3 separate regions of the Homo sapiens genome follow, and all the other regions are linked to region 3. Evidence: fine-mapped expression QTL. A gene starts in region 3. Each other region holds a variant in brackets. All regions are shown on one strand. Distances are between the middles of the regions.

Evidence for each region. PIP is the estimated chance that this variant, and not a neighbour inherited with it, causes the effect.
Region 1: its variant is fine-mapped to the expression of UBN1 in whole blood (TOPMed, PIP above 0.99).
Region 2: its variant is fine-mapped to the expression of UBN1 in whole blood (INTERVAL, PIP above 0.99).

The regions. Positions count from the first base shown.
Region 1 is chr16:4,898,176-4,900,928 of GRCh38, forward strand. PPL (periplakin) reads right to left here. Exons shown (of 22, transcript NM_002705.5): 6 at 2,655-2,696; 7 at 1,048-1,209; 8 at 838-945. The region is part of intron 1 of LOC124903637 (a long non-coding RNA gene); the gene reads left to right. Among named protein-coding and RNA genes, the nearest start is that of PPL, 38 kb to the right of the region's middle. The variant G/T (reference allele first, on the strand shown) is at 1,352.
Region 2 is chr16:4,870,828-4,873,580 of GRCh38, forward strand. It overlaps UBN1 (ubinuclein 1), which reads left to right. Exons shown (of 18, transcript NM_001079514.3): 11 at 17-145; 12 at 328-474; 13 at 2,057-2,107; 14 at 2,204-2,246. Among named protein-coding and RNA genes, the nearest start is that of UBN1, 25 kb to the left of the region's middle. RefSeq lists a silencer at 1-156. The variant T/TG (reference allele first, on the strand shown) is at 1,650.
Region 3 is chr16:4,846,061-4,848,813 of GRCh38, forward strand. It overlaps UBN1 (ubinuclein 1), which reads left to right and starts at 1,421. Exons shown (of 18, transcript NM_001079514.3): 1 at 1,421-2,150. It overlaps GLYR1 (glyoxylate reductase 1 homolog), which reads right to left and starts at 1,228. Exons shown (of 16, transcript NM_032569.4): 1 at 1,168-1,228; 2 at 114-150. The coding sequence starts at 1,205. RefSeq lists enhancers at 672-731, 1,032-1,091, 1,387-2,229 and silencers at 1,282-2,001, 2,012-2,101.

The DNA of each region.
Region 1 (2,753 bases), 52 kb after region 3:
GAGACTAGCCTGGCCCACATGATGAGACCCTGTCTCTACTAAAAATACAAAAATTAGCTGGGCATGATGGTGTGCGCCTGTAGTCCCAGCTACTTGGGAGGCTGAGGCAGGAGAATTGCTTGAACCCGGGAGGTGGAGGTTGCAGTGAGCCAAGATTACACCATCGCACTCCAGCCTGGGCAACAACAGCGAAACTCCATCTCAGGCGGGGTTGGTGGCATTGTGGGGGTTGGGAAGAATGCGACCTTATTTGGGAATAAGATCTTTGCAGATGTCATTAGTTAAGGATCCTGAAATTAGGGTGAGCCCTAAATCCACTGACTGATATCCTTATAAGAAGAGAGGATACAGAGAGACATGGGGAGAGAAGGCCATGTGAAGACGGAGGAAGGGACTGGAATGATGCAGCCACAAGCCAAGGGCTGTTGGCAACCCCCAGAAGCCGGAAGAGCAAGGAAGGCACATGTCCTGGAGCTTCCAGAGGGAATGAGGCCCTAAGACACCTTGATTTCAGACTTACAGCCCACAGACCTCTGAGAGAATGAATTTCTGTTGTTTAAAGCCACTAAGTTTGTTTTAACTTGTTGCAGCAACTCTAGGAAACTAATACAGACCCCACAGGGGCTTCAGAAGTCCAGGGGCTGAGGGCAGAAGTGTCAACGGATCAGGATAAATGGAGGAGGCAGAGTCAGACACAGCAAGAAAGAGACAGACAGACACAAGATGCAGCTTGCAGGACCCCCAGCTCCGGGGTCTGCCCGAGCTCCAGGCGGCCCACAGGCAGCGGCCAACCAGAAGCCACCCTGGGGGAGGTGTCTGGTCTCGGGGTGCATGAACCTCAATGGAGTTCCTCCCGGGGTGCTCGGCCGCCAGCAGCTGGTCGCCCTCGCTGTGCAGTTTGTTGATTCTCTCCTCTTTGGCCTCCAGGTTCCGGTTGATGAAATTCTGCAGTGGGGGGCAGTGGAGGGGCCTCAGTGCCCAGCCTGGCGGTCCCGTGCTCCTTCCAGGGCTGCCTCCTCCCTGATGCCCCAGGCCCCCAGAACCCACCTCATACTGGCGCCGGCGGCTGGGGTAGTCGAGGTTGCGGTCACTCCAGTCGTACTGCATGCGGCCCTTGGCCTGCTGGTCCAGCCAGTACAGCTCATTGGTGCAGCGCTGCATGTAGTCCTGCAGCGAACTCAGGTGCTGCTGCCGGGCCTGTGATGCTGCCTGAAGGGGCCGGGGCAAGGAAAGGGCTGCGTCCTCAGCCCGCTGCCACTGCTCGCTTCCTTCCCTACCTCCTGCAGGGCCCAGCTATGGCTGGCCTGAGGACAAGCCCAGCTATGGGTGGCCTGAGGACAAGCCCAGCTTA[G/T]CCACGTCCAGGCCAGTCCCCCTTAGACAAGTCACCTGAACCCCTGAAACTCATTCATTCATTCATTCATTCATTCAGTAAATGTTTACTGAGCATCTACTACATGCTGGACATGGCTCCAGACACTGGGGATACAGCAAACGAAACACACAAAACCCTTACGGAACTGACATTTTTGTGAAGGCTTAGTTCGCCCATCTGTAAATGGGGAAGATGACAGTCCTGACCTCACAGCGTACAGAGACTGGCATATAGTTGGTGCTCAACAAATATCAGTAACTATAGCTTCTACTTTTATCTGTATCATGATCGTCTTATAGAGGGCTGGAAGGAAAGCACCACTGTACGTCTGAGAAGCGGGTGTGCAAGGGAAAGGAGGGATGTTTGCATTTTGGTACGTGGGGCCCTCCACGCCTGATGAACTTCTGCAACATTGACTCATTTCATCCTCAAAGCGACCCTATGAGACAGGAACATGTAGGAGCTCCATTTCTCAGATGAGGAAACTGAGGCTCCCGGAGGCTAAGTAACTCGCTCAAGGTGTCACCACTAACACTAAGGAGCAGAGGAAGCATGGCTCCTTATAGCGACACAATGCTGCCTCTGTATTCTCTGTCTGAAACATTGGCAACAAGGAAGCGTTTGCATAACACTTATGCAATTTTTAAAAGAATGCATTCTTTAAAGGTTTGGGAAGGAAAATGGAAAGCTTTTGTATAGAAAGCAAGTGGCATCATACTTGGCACACAGCAGATAATAAAGAAATGAGCAGGACAGGCTGTACCCCTGGGGCCTGTTAGGGTTTTCCCTGAACAACCAGGGCAGACCTTGCAGCCGCTCAGGAAAAGGCTGGGGCACCTCTCTTCCCGCCTCAACCCCTCTCCTGATTGAAACGTTTACTGCACGCCTTTTTTTTTTTTTTTTTTTTTTAAAGGCAGGGTTTTGCTCTGTTTCCCAGGCTGGAGTGGAGTGGCACGATCACAGCTCATTGCAGCCTCCACCTCCTGGGCTCAAGCGATCCTCCCACTTCAGCCTCCCAAGTAGCTGGGACCACAGGCATGCCACCAAGCCCAGCTAATTTTTAAATGTTTTGTAGAGCTGGAGTCTCACTATGTTGCCCAGGTTGGTCTCAAACTCGTGGGCTCAAGTGATCCTCCTGCCTCTGCCTCCCAAAGTGCTAGGCGTGAGCCACCATGCCCAGCTGCCTATGTCATTTTTAAAACAATACATCCTTGTCCCCCCGACTCCAAGCTTCCCATCCTCTCCTCTCCCCATGAGGCCTTTCCCCCAGGGAGCTCCTCACCAGCAGTTTCTGGTACTTGGCCCGGAGTTCGCTGTTCTGCTCCTGAGGACAGAGCCGAGGGCATGGGTCAGGGCCAGGAAGCAGGCGCGGCCCCCTCCA
Region 2 (2,753 bases), 25 kb after region 3:
TCTATTCACCCCGTAGGATGCTGGAAGAGGAGAAAGACAAGGAGCAGAGGGACCGGATTTGTTCGGATGAGGAAGAAGATGAAGAAAAAGGGGGCAGGAGGATAATGGGACCTCGGAAGAAGTTCCAATGGAATGATGAGATCAGGTGTGCCCACACTGGGACTTGGCCTCTTTGGAGGGTTGGTGGGGCAGTGTCTGAGCACGTCCCCTATTGCTGACAAAGGTTAGGCTCATTTACTTTCATCAGGGCTGCTGAAAGCACATGATTGGAACCTTGGAGCAGCATCTGAAGTAGTTTGGAGTTTCTGATTTCTGCCTCCTTCTCAGGGAGCTACTGTGCCAGGTGGTGAAGATCAAACTGGAGAGCCAGGACCTGGAGAGGAACAACAAAGCCCAGGCTTGGGAGGACTGTGTGAAGGGCTTTCTGGATGCGGAAGTCAAGCCCCTCTGGCCCAAAGGCTGGATGCAGGCCAGGTGAGGGCCGTGTGCTGAGATGGGCATCTGTGCAGTCAAGACACGTTTGAACGCTGCTTTTGTGCCAGGCCAACAGGATCCTTGCTCACAGGGAGTCACTGTCTAGCTGCCTCAACTCTGATCTCACCTGAGTAACTGGGGGACATGCAGGTAGCTGGGAAAGGGTCTTCTGGATCTTCCCTGGAGGAAGGGAAGTTGCCTCCAGGGTTTTGTTTTTGTCATTTTTTGTCCCACTTCAGTTGATGTTTGGCCTCCCATCTCAATATGCACTTTCCTTTTTTTTTTTTTTTTTTTTTTTTTTTTGAGATGGAGTCTCGCTCTGTTGCCTGGGCTGGAGTGCAGTGGTATGATCTCAGCTCACTGCAAGCTCCACCTCCCAGGTTCACGCCGTTCTCCTGCCTCAACCTCCCGAGTAGCTGGGACTACAGGTGCCTGCCACCATGCCCGGCTAATTTTTTGTATTTTTAGTAGAAATGGGGTTTCACCGTGTTAGCCAGGATGGTCTCAATCTCCTGACCTTGTGATCTGCCCACCTTGGCCTCCCTAAGTGCTGGGATTACAGGCGTGAGCCACCACACCCGGCCACACTTCCTGTTTTAACATACAGGCTGCTATGAGCATTTGAGAGATGGGTTCATCTTGGGTCTTTCCTGATGTTCCTGAAGAAGTGTCATTTGCAGGTAGCAGGGCTGACTCCTTATTGGAACTAAGTGCCAGGCTTCCATCTCAGAGGCTACCTTGTACGAAGTCACTTCCTGCGAATGAAGTATTTGTGTCATACATGGGACAGAGAAAGTTAGCTGGAGTGATTTTCTTGATTGGACTCGAATCATCTGTTGTGCGGATAGATCTTGGAACCTTTGAAATTGCTGTCCTCTCTACGTAGGCTGGACTCATACGAAGAACGTTTTTGTTGAGTTTCTCTGGACAAAGACATGCTGGGTCACTCCACATTTTATTCCTGGAATGGAGGGACTAGGCAATAAGGAAAGTGCTGTGCCCTTTAGGGAAGCATCACCATGAGAGGTTTGAGGCAGAGCCATACATTTTCTTGGTAAAGGCCAGACTCAGCCTTTGGGCAGCCAGTGTGTCCCATTGAGATCCTCTCACCAGGAATTTGGCTCCCCAATCCATTGACCTTTTTTTTTGTGTGTGTGGGGGGTGGGTGGGCATGG[T/TG]GGGGGGGCGGGGACAAAGTCTCACTCTGTTGCCCAGACTGGAGTGCAATGGCACGATCTCGGCTCACTGCAACCTCCGCCTCCCCGGTTTGAGCGAATCTCCTGCCTCAGCCTCCCGAGTAGCTGGGATTACAGGCGTGCGCCACCACGCCTGGCTAATTTTAGTATTTTTAGTAGAGACGGGGTTTCACCATGTTGGCCAGGCTGGTCTCGAACTCCTGACCTCAGGTGATCCACCTGCCTTGGCCTCCAAAAGTGCTGGGATTACAGGCGTGAGCCACTGCGCCTGGCCAGTTGACATTTAATGAGGGATAGCTACTGAGGACCAGGGACACTAGCAAAGTTCTGGAAGCAGAGTCCCAGCTTTCTGGGGCATGTACAGATGCCTGGTGTTCTGTGTCTTTCAGAACTCTGTTTAAGGAGAGCAGACGAGGCCATGGGCACCTGACTTCAATCCTGTGAGTGTCTTGGTATTTTCACATCTCGGGACAAGTGTTGTTTTTGGTCTCCTCTGGATATTCTCTAAACTTTTCTGTGCTCATTCCTTTGAACAGGGCCAAGAAGAAAGTTATGGCCCCTTCTAAAATCAAGGTGAAGGTGAGTCAGTTTGCTCGGGTCACATGTCAGCTATGCCCATCTCCCTACAACTATGCTCTGGAAACAGTCAAGTGACTGTGGAAGCTCATTGATCTTTGCTCGTCTGGGGACAGCTGCTCAGGATGACATTCTTGAAGTCATAACAGGACAGAGACCCAAGCCACTTAACCCCCCTCTAGCCTTGGTTCTACAAACAGTACCCAGCTGGCCCAGTTCCTGGGGTTCATGTGGGATTAAGTGGGATCTTCTTGGCAGCCCTCTGAGGAGTCAGTAGTCCCTGAAGGTGTGAACGTGTTACACTGTGATCTTTGTATGGAAGAAATACACTCTAGCCAAGTGCAGTTTAGCTTGGAGCCACAGCAGAAAGAAAAGGCGACTTTACTGAGCTACCAGGCAGAAATGGAGGGCAATATAGTGGCTGGAGAATAGACACTGTGAAAATTACCTTAGATGTTGCAGAAACCTCTCAATGTAGTAAAAATTGCTGTTTATCAACATTTTTCCCAG
Region 3 (2,753 bases):
ATCTGAATGAGCCCAATTTAACTCAATACTAGAAACTGAGAGGAATGCATCTTACATTCTCCACCTCTTCAAACCCAACTTCAGATCTCTTCCTTTAGTAGCAAGACACTCACCTTTCCTGGCCAAGGAGGATATCGGCCGAGTTTCCCCCTAGAGAAAACACAAAGAGTCAACACTTGCCCTGCAAAAGCCAGTCCATCTCCTTCAACCCACTCAATACGCAATTTATTTTCCTAAATCTCTGCTGGCATCCTCAAATGCCGAAACAAAAGCTTTCATAGCTGGGCCCAACACCCTCAGAAGTAAAATGCAAAATTGTATACTTATGTGCACAACGCATATCCATTCTTCTGTTGACAAGGAATACAGAACAACACAACTGTCAAAAGTCACTTGTCTAGAGCTTCTTAATGACGGGGGTGGGAGGACAGCTTCCTCTGTAAACACAGACTTTCCCTCCCTAAGTCTGGTTTAATTCAACAGGAGACCTGCCTGGCTTTGACAAATGCTAATGGAAGCCTTCCTCTGGGTGGAGAAACAAGCTACGCAGCTCGAGGGAGGCGGCGACAAAGTCTTGGTTCGGGCGGTTGTCTGGGACACAGAAGCAGACCGCGGGAGGCACCCAAGCGTGCACTGGTCACTGCCAAGCCATCGGTTGTAAAGGAGAAGTCCCCCCGCCGTTTCTTCGCGGGGCAACGCCAGCAGTCCGGTTTAGACAACCCCGGCTGAGCCGGCCGCACAGGTCGGCTGCATCGCAACCTGGGCTTTGACCGAATGGCACCGGCCAGATCTCGCAGGTCCGGTCCCCGGCGCTTCTGCTTTCTGGGAAGCCCCAACAAGACCCCGGGGACCGGTCGTCCGGGGAAGCCTCGCGGCACCGGCGGCTCCCTTCACGGGGGCCGCCAGTATCTGGGCCCCGAGTGCAGACCCCACCCGGCCGGCCTCGGGGATCAAAGCCGGTGCCCGACGTGGCCACCCTCGGCCTCGGTCCCCCGGGACTGGACTGCCCCTTCCGCCTGGCGCCGCTCGCAAGCGCCGGCACCTTCTCTTCCCCTCTCTCCGCGACCTGGAGCGCATAAAAAGGCAGCTCCAGGGCCGGCAGCGAACCCCGCGCCCAGGCGGGTAGCTCCCCGGCGCGTCTCGGTTGGCCCGGCCGCTCGGACTCACCACACCAAGTCGCCGAGCCGCAGACTCACAGCCGCCATCTTACCACCCAACCACCGCCGACGCACGGGCCGCCGGGAACAGCAAGTCGCCCCGGCGCCGCCCATTGGAGTGGGCCCGACCACGTGACGGGGGCCGGCTGTCACTGGCCACGCCGCTACTCTGACGTCACCGCGCCCGCCGGGGATCATTGGTCGACCGAGGGGCACGTGACGCGAGCGCCGCGGTCTCCGCGCGCCGGAGCGCAGAGACTCCCGGCTCCTTCCCCCTCCCTTCGGCTCGTGACAACGAAGCGCCCGCGGTCTGAGGCGGCGGCGGCGGCGACGGTGCGACCGGCTGAGCGCGAGAGGGAGCCGGCCTCGCGGCTCGCCCCGCCCCCGGGTCTTGGACTCCGCGCCCCTCCCCTCTCGGCGCTTCCGTTACGCCCGTTGGTCCGGCGCGGGCCCCGGGGCCATTCCCGAGCCCGAGGCGCTGGTCGGCCCCGTCGCAGCGCCAGTGAGCTACCCTGACGGAGCTCGGCGCGGCCTGGAACTCAGCCTCCGCCGGGTCTGGGCTCCCGCGCCCGGCAACTCTGCTTGGCCGCAGGCCGGGAGGCCCCGGTGTCCGCGCCCGTCCGCTCCCGCCGCCCGTGTTCTTTGGAGCGCTCCTCCCGACGGCCGCTTTCGGAGGCGCCGTCTGAGCGCGGGGTCCCGCGCCGCAAGTTCTCCTGGGGCGACCGGAGGCTGCTCCCCCGACCCCCTGGTGTCCCCGGAGTGGCTGCGCGGACGTCGAGTTGGCATTTCTTCGCTTCCTCCTGGGCCGGCGCGCGGCGCGGCACACCAGGCTCCCCTGGGCTCGGGGACCCGGCCATGGGCCGAGGCGCGGGCCGCCCGCCCGCTGGGAGCCACGGCTTAGCAGCCGACCGCTAGCTGCGCCGCCGCCCGGGGACCGGCATGAGGACCGCCGCGGGGGGACGTCTGCGGCCCGCGTCGGCGCTGGGGACAAAGGTGCGTGTCGTTGTCGGGTCCGGGCTCTCTCGTTAGCCTTGCCCTAGTTTTGCACTTTTGAAAAAGTTGTGACAACAGGAAGACAGATGCCGGGCGTAGTTTGGACACTTTAAAACTGAACCATGAACTGGGAAGTGTTAACTGCAGTTGAGCGCAGCGTCGGCCCAAACTTCAGCAGACCAGGTAGAATCACAATTTTGCAAAAGATCCCAGTCCCGATCACAGACTCCACAGTGTTAAGGATTGACTTAGACTTGGTGTCGGGCTCTTGTTGAGTCACTGCCAGCTGGCAAAGGTGGCGAGTCGACACGCATTTCCCCAAGGCATTGTGGTGGTTAGAGATTTCGGTTGCAAGTCGGTGTTTAGCGTACTGGGTCGTCCCGCAGCCTGATTTTTCTTGGGAGATCAGTTTCCCTGAAGTACCAAGAATTAGCTGCACGGACTGTCATTTACTGCGTGTGTATTTTTAAGACAAAGTGATCTTTAAAGCGTATTTAAGATTCCAGGGAATAATTTGATAAAAATTTAACATAAGTTCCTGTTTAAAAATTCTGAATTTGTGAGGAATTGAATGAGATTTTAATAACTTAAATAAAAACATGA